Homo sapiens: one gene and its partner. The protein of the gene in region 1 purifies or fractionates together with the protein of each later gene. This does not show direct contact. Each region holds a gene or a part of one and is shown on either strand. Other genes may lie near its edges.

Evidence for each region. The genes of interacting proteins can lie anywhere in the genome.
Region 2: the proteins of KIFAP3 (region 1) and KIF3C purify together in Homo sapiens (co-immunoprecipitation; 4 studies listed by BioGRID and IntAct, with this or other methods). This does not show direct contact.

The regions. Positions count from the first base shown.
Region 1 is NC_000001.11:170,071,053-170,079,519, reverse strand, and holds the start of KIFAP3 (kinesin-associated protein 3), read left to right. Parts: upstream 1-4,824; 5' UTR 4,825-5,052; coding exon 5,053-5,084; intron 5,085-8,467. UniProt on the Homo sapiens protein: Involved in tethering the chromosomes to the spindle pole and in chromosome movement. Binds to the tail domain of the KIF3A/KIF3B heterodimer to form a heterotrimeric KIF3 complex and may regulate the membrane binding of this complex.
Region 2 is NC_000002.12:25,925,507-25,930,518, forward strand, and holds the end of KIF3C (kinesin-like protein KIF3C), read right to left. Parts: intron 4,558-5,012; coding exon 4,449-4,557; intron 3,972-4,448; coding exon 3,799-3,971; intron 3,566-3,798; coding exon 3,472-3,565; 3' UTR 1,092-3,471; downstream 1-1,091.

The sequences.
Region 1 (8,467 bases):
AAAATCATGAATTCCATTATATTAATTTTCTGCTTCTGTTGAGATGACCATATGATTTTTTACCTTTATATTGTTAATATGTGTCTTTGTTCATATGTGTTGCTATAAAGGAATACCTGAGATTATGTAATTTATAAAGAAAGTTTATTTGGTTCATTGTTCTTCAGGCTGTACAAGAAGTAGGGGGCCAGTATCTGCTTCTGGTGAGGGCTTCAGGCTGCTTCCATTCAAGATGGACGGGGAAAGGGAGCCAGCATGTGCAGTGATCACATGGCAAGATAGGAGGCAAGAGGTGGGGGAGGTGCTAGGCTCTTTTTGTCAACCAGCTCTCACAGGAACTAATAGAGCAAGAACTCACTAATTACCACAAGGACAGTATAAAGTCATCCATGAGGGATCTGTCTGCATCACCCAAACATCTCCCATTAGGCCCTGTCTCCAACATTGGAGATCAAACTTTAACATAAGGTTTGGAGGGTCAAGTATGCAAACTATATAGCAATATGGCAAATTAATTATTGGATTTTCATGTATTAAACCAACCTTGCATTCCTGGGATAAACCCCATTTGGTCATAGCATTCTTTTTATGTATGCTGGTTTGATTTGCTAATATTTTGTTAAAGAGTTTTGCACATATGTTCACTAAGGATATTTGTAGCTCTTATTTTGTAATACCATTTTCTAATTTTGATATCAGGATAATGCTGACCTTTTAAAATTAATTGGTAGATATGCTTTCATTTTATATTTTCAGAAAGTATCTAAATTGACATTATCTTAATTACTTGCTTGGTAGAATGCATAAGTGAAGCTATTTGTGTCTGAAGTGTATTTTGTGGGAAATATTGTCATTAGGTATTCAATGTCTTTAAGAGATAAAGAGCTTTAACATTTTCTCTTTGTTCTTGTCACCATCTTAATAAATATCATTCAAGGTATTTGCTTATTTCATTTAAGTCATTAAATTTATTAGTATAAAGTTGTTCATAATTTTCAAATTATCATTTTTATACCTGTAGAATCTGAATGATGTCCCTTCTTTCATTTCAGATATTAGTAATTTGTCCTCTTTATCTACTTAACTGTTGATATCTCTGTGCTCAGTTTATCAGTCTGGCAAAAATATAAATTAAAAATGGACAAAAAATTTGAAGAGAATTCAAAAATGGTATAGAAATGGTAATTAAACATATGAAAATATGCTCATACCATTAATAATCAGGGAAATTCAATTAAAATCAAGTGAGATAGCCCTGCACACTTATTAGAATGATGAGAGTAAACAGACAAATTTAAAAAAAAAACAAAATACCAAGTGCTGGAAAGGATGTGACTAAATCTGAACTCATACATTGTTGGTAGAAATGCAGAACGGCATTCATTTTGGAAAACAGTTTGGTGGTTTTGTACAGTCATTCATATATTTACCATACAACTAAGTAAACCTATTCTTAGATAACTGAACAGGAGTAAAGAATACTAACTAACACAAAAATCTGTATGTAAATATTTTTAGTAGCTTTATTCATAGTTGCCAAAAGCTAGAAGCAACTCAAATGTCTTTCAACTGGTGAATGAATAAACTATGGTACATTCATACCATGGAATAGTACTTAACAATAAAAAAAAAAACAGGACCGAAAAACAAAATGGATTGTCTTCAAATGCATTGTGCTAAATGAAAGAAACCAGATTCAAAAGGCTACAGCGCCTATCATTACATTCAGATGACGTTCTGGAAAAGGCAAAATTATAGGAACAGAAAACAGATCAGTATTTACCAGAGCCTGGGGTTGTGGGGATAAGGCGACTCCAAAGGATACAAAGGAATTTTAGAGGATGACAGAACTGCTCTATGATTGTGCAGGTAATTATATGACTTAAGAGTTTTTCAAAACTTAGAGAACTGTAGGCCAAGAAGAATGCATGTTATTGTTTTTAAATTATAGTGCAATTTAAATAAAGCATCATGCTGTATTTAATCTGCCACAATTTTTCACTCAGTATCATGTTTCTAATATTCATCCATGTCATATGTAAAGTTCTAGTTCATCAACTTTCTCTGCTGCATATTATTGTATTGTGTGAATATTTCAAATGTATTCATTCATTCTCCTGCAAAAGTATTTTGTTATTGTCTTTCTGTTTTTCATTTTCTACTAAGCTCAATACTTCTCCAATGATTTTGGAACAATTTTATGAAGTATAGAACTAGGAGTAGAATTGCTGAGATTTAGAGTATGTGCCTATTCAACTTTACAAAATAATCTGACATTTTATTCCCTTGTTTGGCCCCGCCCACATCCTGCTGATTGGTGTTACAGAGTGCTGATTGGTGCATTTACAATCCTTTAGCTAGACACAGGGCGTTGATTGGTGCATTTTTACAGAGTGCTGATTGGTGCGTTTACAATCCTTTAGCTAGACACAGAGCACTAATTGGTGCGTTTGTACAGAGTGCTGATTGGTGCATTTACAATCCTTTAGCTAGACCCAGAGTGCTGATTGGTGCATTTACAACCCTCTAGCTAGACAGAAAAGTTCTCCAAGTCCCCACCCGACCCAGAAGTCCAGCTGGGTTCACCTCTCACTAATGATGCTGTTTGCTTGTCTGTTTAAAATGCTGACAGCTAGATCTCCTCATTGTAAAGTAACATTTCTTTTCCTTTAGAATTATAAAGAAATATGCGGGGTAAAACTTTGCCTCACTTTAAATTATTTTAAAGTAAATTAATAGGGCTTATTTGAATCCATTGTTTATTGGTGCTTGCAAAATAGTAACTATCATTATTTTTCTCCATTCCTACCAGGTATTTTCTGTTAAGAAGAGCTTTTCCTTGTTAAAAGGAGGTGAAATCTGGTTTATTTCCAAAAGCATTAGATTAAATCCTTCTTTCTTTTAATTACCAGCTTTCAGAGTAAAGATCTGATGCAGTAGTTGCCTCCAGTGGAAGTGGGGTTCTTTTTTCCCTGTTTTTCTATGTTGTTGAGTATCATTATGGATTTCTTTTTTTTATTTATTTAATGTCTTAAATCAATCCCAGTAATTCCATTTGATTCCCAAATTGCCTCAAATTCACCAGTGTCCTTTTTACATAATCTTATCTTCTTAGTCTCTGACTATGTCCTTACTGTCAAGCATAAAATGTTCCAGGCTCATCTTGTACTTTTCCTGCCACAGACAGACAGTTTATCTAGTTCAGTCCCAGTTTCAGCTATCTATTTATTGCTCTGGTTTCCAGCTCTCTCTTTCTTTCTGGCCTCTGGGCATTTTCTTTAGGTTTTTTTGTTGTTGTTGTTGCTATTGTTTTTTCAAGCTCAGGTTTGCATTTTTTCAACACCAAAATTTTTATTCAGTGACAACTATGGGCTGAATGCAAAAGTGAACGAAATAAGTTCTCTGAGCTCAAGGAGCTAACTTACATTCCAAAAATCCTTGTTATATTATCTATGCATTTTAATGTATATTTTGGTCTTCCAATTTTACGTATTGTGAAGATTTTAAAGTAATCTAGCCTGCTATATTACCATTAAAGGTGTTATAAATGATAATTTGTAAAATTTTACATTAGTTTGCAGAATTAATATTTAGAAAAACAAAAAATAGGAAGTCCAATGAGGAAGGAATTGCAGTACTCTAGGTATAAAGTGATTAGACTATTGGTAGAAGTAAGAATGTAGAAAAAAACTGGACTACCTGAATATCTTGAAGGAAGAAAAGATAGAATTTTGTAACACTTTAGTAAGAGGGCATGATACAGAGGAAGGAGTCAAAATTAGCTGCAAATTTTCTTCCCTTTCAGAATGAAAGAATGACTATAACATCTACAGAAATAGTGTAGCTGGTGTGAATGGGTGGGAAGATAAAAATATATTTTGTTGGGTAAGGACTGTATTTCTATATTTAATATACCATGCAGTGCCTTAACATGGTGTTTTACACATAACGGATAATCAATAATTGCATCAATGTACTACATTTGAAAAAAGCAGCAGAGCAACTACGTGCACGTCTCAAAGCAACTGGGAAAACAGGACTAGAAGACAGTGAATAAGTGACAAGATTATAGGTGAGCAGGGGGAGTAGAGGTGCTTTCTTTGCATCCCTAGAGCCTGGTTTGGTGTTTGGCACACAGCCAGCCCTCAATTCACATTTACCAAATAAATGAACCTATATCATTTGCATAGACATAATAGCTGAACCCATGGGAATAGATCTTAAACCAGAGAACATGCAGTTAAAAAAGAACCCTTCTTTCCTATGCCCTGCACTGCTAACAATTGCCTGCCTCAGAAGAAGCAATTCTAAACATACCTTGAGTTCAGGATAATTGGTGGAGTTGGAATTTCAGGAACTGTTTTTTGTTGCTGTTGTTTGTTTGTTTGTTTGTTTGTTTTGGTTGGGGGAGGTGTATTCTAGATTTAAGACATCAAAGTGACAGACTTGCCGCCTTCAAAGTTATATCCATTTTGTACAACGGTCAGATTATCTCCATAAGTTAGAGCTTGTAAGTGCAATCAGGGCCATTCAGGCCCCCAAATAGAAACCTCCCTTATTAGCTGGACTGCTGTATAGCATTCGCTAACTAAAAGGTTATCGGATTCCCCTCTCTCCTTTCAAGCTGACCTGACAGCCCTTTCTATTCCCATCCTCAAGGGGGCGGTGACTACGGAGCCACTCCTTATACACGGACGCTCAAAACTGCACCAAAACTTCCCTGCTCGGCTCCCCGGTGCGTCAAACTCTGAGGCCACCGCCTCAGACTGAGCCTGCGCATACAAGAGGTGCAGAGCAAGCGCATGCGTCGTGACGGCCCGGCTTAGGCGACTCTGGGCGGGTCTGGGCCGCTCCAGTGTTTTGGGGCACAGAAGCTGTGGGAGGAGCTGGAGGCTTCACCGTGGTAACCACAGCGCCGCTGCTGCCCCGCCTTGCAGGCCTCAGGACTGTCATCGCCTCTGGGTGTGAGGGTACTTTGGCCACCGTCCCCGGAAATAACCGCGCCTGCCTCTCAAGATACCCCATCCTCTCCACGCCGCTGCCGCTGCCGCCATGCAAGGGGAGGACGCCAGATACCTCAAAAGGTGACGACTCCCCAAGGCTCTGTCCTACCCTCCTTGCCAGGGCCCTGAAGATGTTCTTGGGTTGGCTGTGAGATGTCACTGGGCAACGCTAGTTTAGCAGACGGGATGGGAAGCAGGGAGAGAAGTCACCGAAAGGAGAGGGAAAAGGTGAAGTGGAGAAAAAAGGAGAGCTCTGGGGGGGTTTCAAAGTCCTTTGACCTGACTCGGCGGAGCCCTGACAGCATTGAAAGATGGTTTCTTCGCTACATCACCTTATTCCAGGGGGAGAGGGAGGTAGGGCAAGGTAAACCGCGTCTTTTGTTTTTTTTTTCGCCTCTTCCCAGACTCTCCATTTTCCCATAATAGATAAATCCCATGAGAGCCTGGGAATAAAGTCTGGTGCATCCGCCCTCAGGCCTCAGTTTGGGGTTCATTGCCATGGGCTTTTGAAATGATGAAGGGGAAAGAAGTGGTGGATTCTACTTTTTGGAAGGCTGAATTGAGATGTTGATTTCCAGTCTCTTTCTGCTTTCCGCATCCATGTCATCCATTTGACTCCCATGTATACAACATAATTTTTGTAGGACATTTAGTAATTATTAAGAGGTTTGTTCAGAAGTTTGATGACAATAAAATAGGCCATAATTTCTTTTAAATATAGTATCAGTTACTCAAAAAAATTGTAGTCTGTTGGGATTATTTGGGTGCTGGCAAATACTCAGATCATTCCTGATTTGGAAAAAAAAAAAGATACCTCCCACTGAACCAAGAGTAAGCAGTGATCCAATAGAAAAAAATTTTAATTCAGTACTGATTCAGTAAATACCCTGGAAAAGTCGCATGTATTCCTTTGGGCACGGTTTCCTCATCTGAAAATGGGACAGGCGTTACCTTCTGAGAGATACAAGGACGAAAGATGAAATACTTTTAAAAAATGAAACATGAATGTAAGGTGGTGGTATTATTTCAAGTCATAATACACTTGCAGTGAATATTTTTATTCTGGCTTGGCTGAGCTCTCATCATCACAGAAAGATCTTCCAAGTGTTAGTAGACTCATAGAAGGGATTCAAACAATTGTATAATAAATAAATCAACTCTATTGTCCTGGCAAGACAGGCATATATTGACTGTCTTTTTTATTTTATGTAAATATATCTGAAACTGGCAAATAGCCAGACTTTGTCAGTAAAAATTTTTAAATGAATATATAAGCCTACATCAGTGTTTATTTCCTCACTGAATTTTACTTAACGTTGGTTTTTAAAATACCTTGGTTAAAAATTTTGTGACAGAAGAAAATAAATTGCCTTTTAACTTTAAATTCAAAATTGTTCTGGAACAAAGAGCCGCTGTTATACCATTAGCTGATTTTCATGTAATATATTTGTGTCAGAGGTAGTTTTTCTTAACATTATCGTACCAGTATGGACACTGAGGCATACTGTGACTTATAATTCTCAACCTATTGTTTGCTTTTAAATACATACTATCTAGAGTTCCAAAATTAAAACCAAGCCAGTCAATGTAATGTTTGAAGTAAAATGAGATTAGAGTCTGAAAAGGTTGAAAAATACATTTCTCAATTTCATCTAATTTTTACTATAAATAATAAAAAGTTTGAATTGTCTGTTTTCAGACTAGAAGCATACAGGAGACATGTATTTATACAGGCCTGATGGAAAACATTTGTGATGTCTGATAGAACCTTCAATTTTAATTATTGTTTTTTGACCATGATTACATATATTCTTTAACAATATTTTTACTTTTATATTTTGTTTTTAACAAGACAGCAGATAGCAGTATATTTTCAGTCCCTTCCTACCTGAGTAATTCCATATTTTGGTTTTACAAAAATAATTTTTTTTGAATCTCTATGTGTTTTGGTGTTTGATTCTTACATGCCCTTCCTTTATCTGGAACTTGCCCTGTTCTTTGCCCCGCTAATTCCTCATCTTTCCTGTTTTGACATAAATACCACTTTTTCCAGAAAGCTTTCCTGAACTTCCCTTTCCCACCTCACAATCCAGGTCAGGTATACCTGTTAGGGTCTCATGATACTTAATACCTTGTTTTTCCCTAAACTTACTACTTTATATTTCCTTCTGGTTTATAAAGTTCATAAAGGTAGGTGCTATGTGTCTATCTTACTTCCCATTGTATTCCCAGCACTCAGCAAGGTGCCTGAAACATAGATTATTAAGTAAAGTCAGAATAAGACTAGAAAGAAATATGAGCCAAATCATATGGGACTTAAGCGCTTTAGTAAAGAGTTGAGACTTTATTTTGAGTGCATTGGTGAACTATTGAAGGATATTAAAAGTGAACAACATTTGTTCATTCATTTAATAGTTGAGATTCTACTGTGTAAAAGTCATTAAGCCAAGTGATAAAACATATTTGGTAAATGAAACATAAATATATTCCCTGCCTTCATGGCATTTACACTCTAGCAAGTAATACAGACTTTAAAATATACTGATATTTATTGTATTTATGAGTGCTATATGAAAAAAGTGTGTGGCTTTTGTGTCAAGCATTTCTCACATGGTATATCAAGGTCCATCTGTGTGGTAGCATGTATCAGTACTTCATTCCTTTATATAGCTGCATAATATTTGCTGTGGTTTGGATATAGTTCGTTTCCACCAAAGCTCATGTTAAAACTTGGTCCCCCATTGTGGCAGTGTTGGGAGCTGGAGCCTGGGAGGTGTTTCAGTTTTGGGGGTGGATCCCTCATGAATGGCTTGGTGCTGTTCTTGCTGGAGTGAGTGAATTCTTGCTCTAGTGAGACTGGATTAGCTCTCTTGGGAATGGATTAGTTCCCTCTAGAGTTGGTTGTTATAAAGCCAGGAAGACCCTTGGGTATTCTCTTTTCTCACTTCCCCTTTGATCTTGTCCACTGTGTTATAATGAAGCACAAAAGCCCTCACTGGAAGCCAGAGTCATGCCCTTGAACTTCCCAGCCTGCGGAACTGTAAGCTAAATAAACCCCTTTTCCTTATAAATTACCTAGTCTCAGGTATTGTGTTATAGCAACATAAAATTGACTAATTCAGTATTCCATTTTATGGATATACCACATTTTGTTTGTTTATTGCTCATCTGGTGGTGGACATTTGGGTTGTTTCTACCTATTGGCTATTGGGAATAAAGCTGCTGTGAACATTACTGTACAAGTTTTTGTTTGAACACTTGTTTTGTATCTTTTGGTGTATACCTAGGCCTGGAATTGCCAGACCATATGGTAATTCTATGTTTAATTCATTGAGGAACCACTAAAGTGTTTTCCCTAGTGACTGCACCATTTTACATTCCCACCAGCAATGTATAAGAATTCAGTTTTCCGTATCCTCACTAACACCTGTTATTTTCTGTTCTGTAATTATTACTATACTAGT
Region 2 (5,012 bases), on another chromosome or scaffold:
AGAAGAGAGGATAAGGGAAGCTAGTCTTTCTTTTCTTTTCGAGACAGTTTCACTCTTGTTGGCTAGGCTGGAGTGCAATGCCACAATCTCAGCTCACCTCAACTTCTGCCTCCTGTGTTCAAGCGATTCTCCTGCCTCAGCCTCCCGAGTAGCTGGGACTACAGGTGTGCACCACCATGCCTGGCTAATTTTTGTATTTTTAGTAAAGACAGAGTTTCACCATGTTGGCCAGGCTGGTCTCGAACTCCTGACCTCAGGGATCCACCTGCCTCAACCTCCCAAAGTGCTGGGATTACAGGCGTGAGCCACCGCACTCGGCCTAGACTTTCAAGTTATTGTAATTCAGCACCCATCAGGCCCAGGCACATCTGTGTGGTTTACATGCATTCTTTCCTCCTTTAACCCCTTTGGTGGATCAATGAGGGCATAGGGAGTATGACAGTGACAGCTAATCTGGACACCACTGAGGCAGTTCTGAAATCTGCCAGTTGCTCAGAATTAACTGGTTGGGGACGACCAGCCTAGAACACAAACAGCTGCTGCCATAGTCCCGGCACAGACTTCCGACTAGTGCCTGGGACCTGCTCCCCAGCCCTATTGGGCAAACAGATCTCCATTTATTAAGCAACCAGTTCTTTTCCAAAGTGCTGATAACTGCAGCTGGAATCCATATGCTCTTTTTATTTTTATTTTTTGGGATGGAGTCTTGCTCTGTCGCCCAGGCTAGAGTGCAGTGGCACAATCTCAGCTCACTACAAGCTCTGCCTCCAGGGTTCAAATGATTCTCCTGCCTCAGCCTCCAGAGTAGCTGAGATTACAGGTGTGTGCCACCACACCAGGCTAATTTTTGTATATGTAGTAGAGATGGGGTTTCACCATGTTGGCCAGGGTGGTCTCAAACTCCTGACCTCAGGTGATCTGCCTGCCTGGGCCTCCCAAAGTGCTGGGATTACAGGTGTGAGCCACCACGTCTGGCTGATATACTCTTGAGCCCCTACTGGAAAAACATGGAAGAGAGAGAAAGGAGAAAATGAAAAAGGGAGGGAGTTAAAGTAGGAAGAAACAAAGGGAAGAGAAGTAAGGCAGTCAACTCCGTGACGATACTCATTCCTTTATTGTCAACTGCATTGATTGGAACAGGGCTGGGGCCTGCAAGCTGCTGGCAGCACCCAGCTGCAGGTGCATTTCAGCTCAACAGAAAGGCCTCCATCCGAAGCCAAGGGGACAGAGGGGAATGTTTTATATATATATTTATATATTACATATGTCCCGTATAGTCATATGTGTAGAGTGACAAGAATGGGCCACTGCATTGTTAATTGTTGTCCTAAATAAAGACCATAGCAACACACGAGAATTTGGTCCTAATCAAGGCCCTTACTTTGTCAATCAAATATTTGATACACCAAAAGGAAAAGGAGAGAAAGAGAGACAGAGAGACTGAGATCCAGCCACTCCTGGTGGCCCTGTTCCCAGCAGATCTTACACTGAGTGTAGAGTGTCCCCTGTGGAGGTAAACACGCACACAAACACGCACACACATACACACATACACAAAACCGCAGGCAGGAGCTCCTCCTCCGACCATACCTCGGGCCCAGCCCTCGGACTGGGGGGGCTGATTTGGGTATATTGTGCTATAAGACTGTGAGGGAGGTGTGACAAGACAATGCAAAGGCGATGTGTCCAAGTGATGAATGAGGTGATACGTGCTGCTTTGTCCACAAACGAGAAAGAGGTCAGTGGGAGAGGCTGCTCAACGCAGCCCTGGAGGTCCCCCTGCGCTCAGGCCACCTGGTGAATTTCTACACACAACTCCTGTCCCAGCCACAGTCGAACCTCTGATCTGAATCCTGAGTCTCAAATAATCTCTTGGGCTCTGATGAAAATTGTGATTTCCTGGAAGGACAGGAGCAAATGGCAAGTGGGTGGCTCAACCCTCTAGTCCAGTAATGAAGCAGAAATGACAGTGTCGCTGAGTTAAATCAGACCCAAGCTTGATCCTCAGAGCAGAACTTGAATGATGTAAGAAGGGTTCATTTCCTGAAGGAAAGAGAATAACCCCCGCCACCACCTCCCACACCCCCCATTTCAGGCAGATCTGTCAGTCTCATGGTTTCACCCCAACGACAGCACTCTTCATATTCTAGGAACTGGAGACTCACACTATTAGGGCACTTTGAAATCCTAATTCACTCGCTTGCTTTCGTTATGACCTCTTCACCCGTCCTCCAAAATATACACTTAAAAAGCCAGTCAATGAACATTAACCATTTTTTTTTGTAGAAATTTACTTATCACTTGAGATACCTAGAGACATTTTGGGCCATCACAAAGGAAGGTAAGGAGTATCCCCCTAGGAACCAATTTGCGTAACTAGTGAATAAAGGATCTATTTTCAACAAAATAATACCTTAAAGATGCAATTCAGAAACAGGGGTAACAGGCAAAGCTGGAAAAGATTGTGCCTGGGCTTCTGTTTCCTGTGACAGATGAAGGGAAAAAGCAATAGATGTTAATATCTTCGTTTAGCGAGGGGTAGAATGACATTGACTCCTCCCACTGTGAACGGGGTCTAGGCAGCTGCAGGGAGAAATGATCGAAGCAGGCAGGAGCAGCCTCTTGAAAATGGGGAGTTGCCTTGAGAGCCTGTCGACCAAAATGACTCCTCGGAGGGGACAGAAACAAAGGAATCCAGTGGAGGGACTTCCGTTGATGACTGTTCAAGTTGTCTCAATTGCTGTTCCATTTCCTGCAGGTTCCAAGGCGATGGTAATTGCTTGGTCCACAGTTCCCATCCAAGGTGGGCAGAAAGCAGAGTTTGGGAAGCTGTGAGTTCTTGTCAAAGCTGAAGGGCATGAGCTATGTTGGTGAGGTTATTAATGTCCTTGAAAAGGAGCCCAAGAGGCTGAATGAGGTTGTCTGAGGCTCAGAAAGTGGAGAGTGGGGCTGTGTCCACGGGGAGCAGATGCCCAACACTGTCAGGATGTCTCTTGTCCTCAGGGAACACCAAGCAGTCTCCCAGTCCCAGAAAGTGCTCAGGGGCTGCTCGCCATCAGTGTGGGAGAAGATGGAGGTTATGGAGTGCGGTGGGTAGAAAAGGGACTGTCTTCTCAGGCACTGGCTACCTTCCCTTCTGGAGGCAGCTGACAGGGGGACAAGCCTGAGATCTGACTGGGGGAGCTCTCAAGTCAGAAGAAAAAGAGGCTACGCAGTGACCACGGTAGGCCCAGACGGCTCAGGCGAGGGCATCTCCCCAACACGAACAGAGCTCCGCGAATAAATAACATGAATTAAATAAAGGAGGCGAAGAAGAGCAGGCAGAGGCACCATCTGCCAGATTCTCACCCCTGCACACACGCACACGCACATGCACGCACACGCACACGCACCAAGCGGCAGATGAGATGAGCCAGGGTTGGCTGCCCCATCCCAGGAGTCTATTGGATGGGCAGCCTGACGTGATGGTTGTCACTCATGGTCCGCCACTGTTGCAGGGCGCAGAGAAGCAGAGGCCAGGGAGGCATGTGTGGTGGAAGGTGGAGGCCGCTGAGGACTCTGGCACCTGCAGGGGAGATGACGCAGGCGAAAGGGGAGGTTAGGGAAATACAGGAAACAGGAAAGTGGGTCCTCTCCTTTGCCCCATCCTGTTGCTGCAGGAATCCTTCTGACATCCCCAGTCACCCCTTGCCCTTCCTGCCCTTCGGGTACCAGCAAAACCCTCTTTAGCATCACCCAGCGCCTGCAGTTCCCCTGCCTCCTGGGTCCAGTGCTGCCTGGGACCATGGAGGTACTGACCAGGATCTGGACTTTCGGACTTTAGACGTGGAAGGTCTTTCCAGAAAGCTGTCCAATCGCATGAGCCTCTCCATGTGTAGCGCACGAGGGTCTTGTTCTTGGTCGTGAGAGAATTCCATCTCAAAGACAGCTGGAGGGGACACATCCAACTCCAGAAACATTATGTTTTCAGCCTGTGGTGGGAATATCATGCCAGGCTTGAACAGTGCCCAGTCACTGTGCCTTCTAGGGACTCAGCCAGTCTTGGGTGTAGCAGGGCTGATGAGGTGGTTAGGGGAAGCAGAGGCTGTGAGCATCCCCTCCCATAGGCTCTTTTTTTTTTTTCTTCTGAGATGGAGTCTCACTCTGTTGCCCAGGCTGGAGTGCAGTGGTGCAATCTCGGCTCACTGCAACCTCCACCTCCCAGGTTCAAGCAATTCTCCTGCCTCAGCCTCCCAAGTAGCTGGGACTATAGGCACCCATCACCACGCCTGGCTAATTTTTGTATTTTTAGTAGAGACAGGGGTTCACCATGTTAACCAGGCTGGTCTCGAACTCCTGACCTCAGGTGATCCACCTGCCTCGGCCTCCCACAGTGCTGGGATTACAGGTGTGAGACACCTCGCCCGGCCTCCCTCCCGTAGGCTCTTTCTCCCCTCTCCGCTTCTTACCCTGTACCTGGGGTGGGACCCCATTGCCATGGCAACCCGAGCATACTGGCTGATAGGCCTCTTGTAGCCCACTGCAGATGTTGGCCGCTTCTTCATCTGGCTGCTACTGCTGTAGGAAAGAGGCTATATTAGAAAGGATTTCTGTGGAACACAAACAGCAAATGACATCATGAGGACCTAAATATCATTCAGGTAGCTAGGAGGCCCTGCAGACTGCAAGTTCTGGAATTTTCTTCTCCTTGCTCTAATACAGCTTGACAACTGAAGCTAGTGCAGTTGTCCCCCTCATCCGTGGTTTCGCTTTCCACAGTCTCAGTTACTGTGGTCTGAAAATAGGCAAGTACAGTACAATCAGATGTTTCGAGAGACAGACACACCTGCATCACTTCTATTAGAGTATATTGTGTTTTTGTTGTTGTTTTGAGATGGAGTCTCACTCTGTCACCCACGCTGCAGTGCAGTGGCACAATCTCAGCTCGCTGCAGCCTCCACCTCCCAGGTTCAAGCAATTCTCCTGCGTCAGCCTCCCGAGTAGCTGGGATTACAGGCATGCACCACCACACC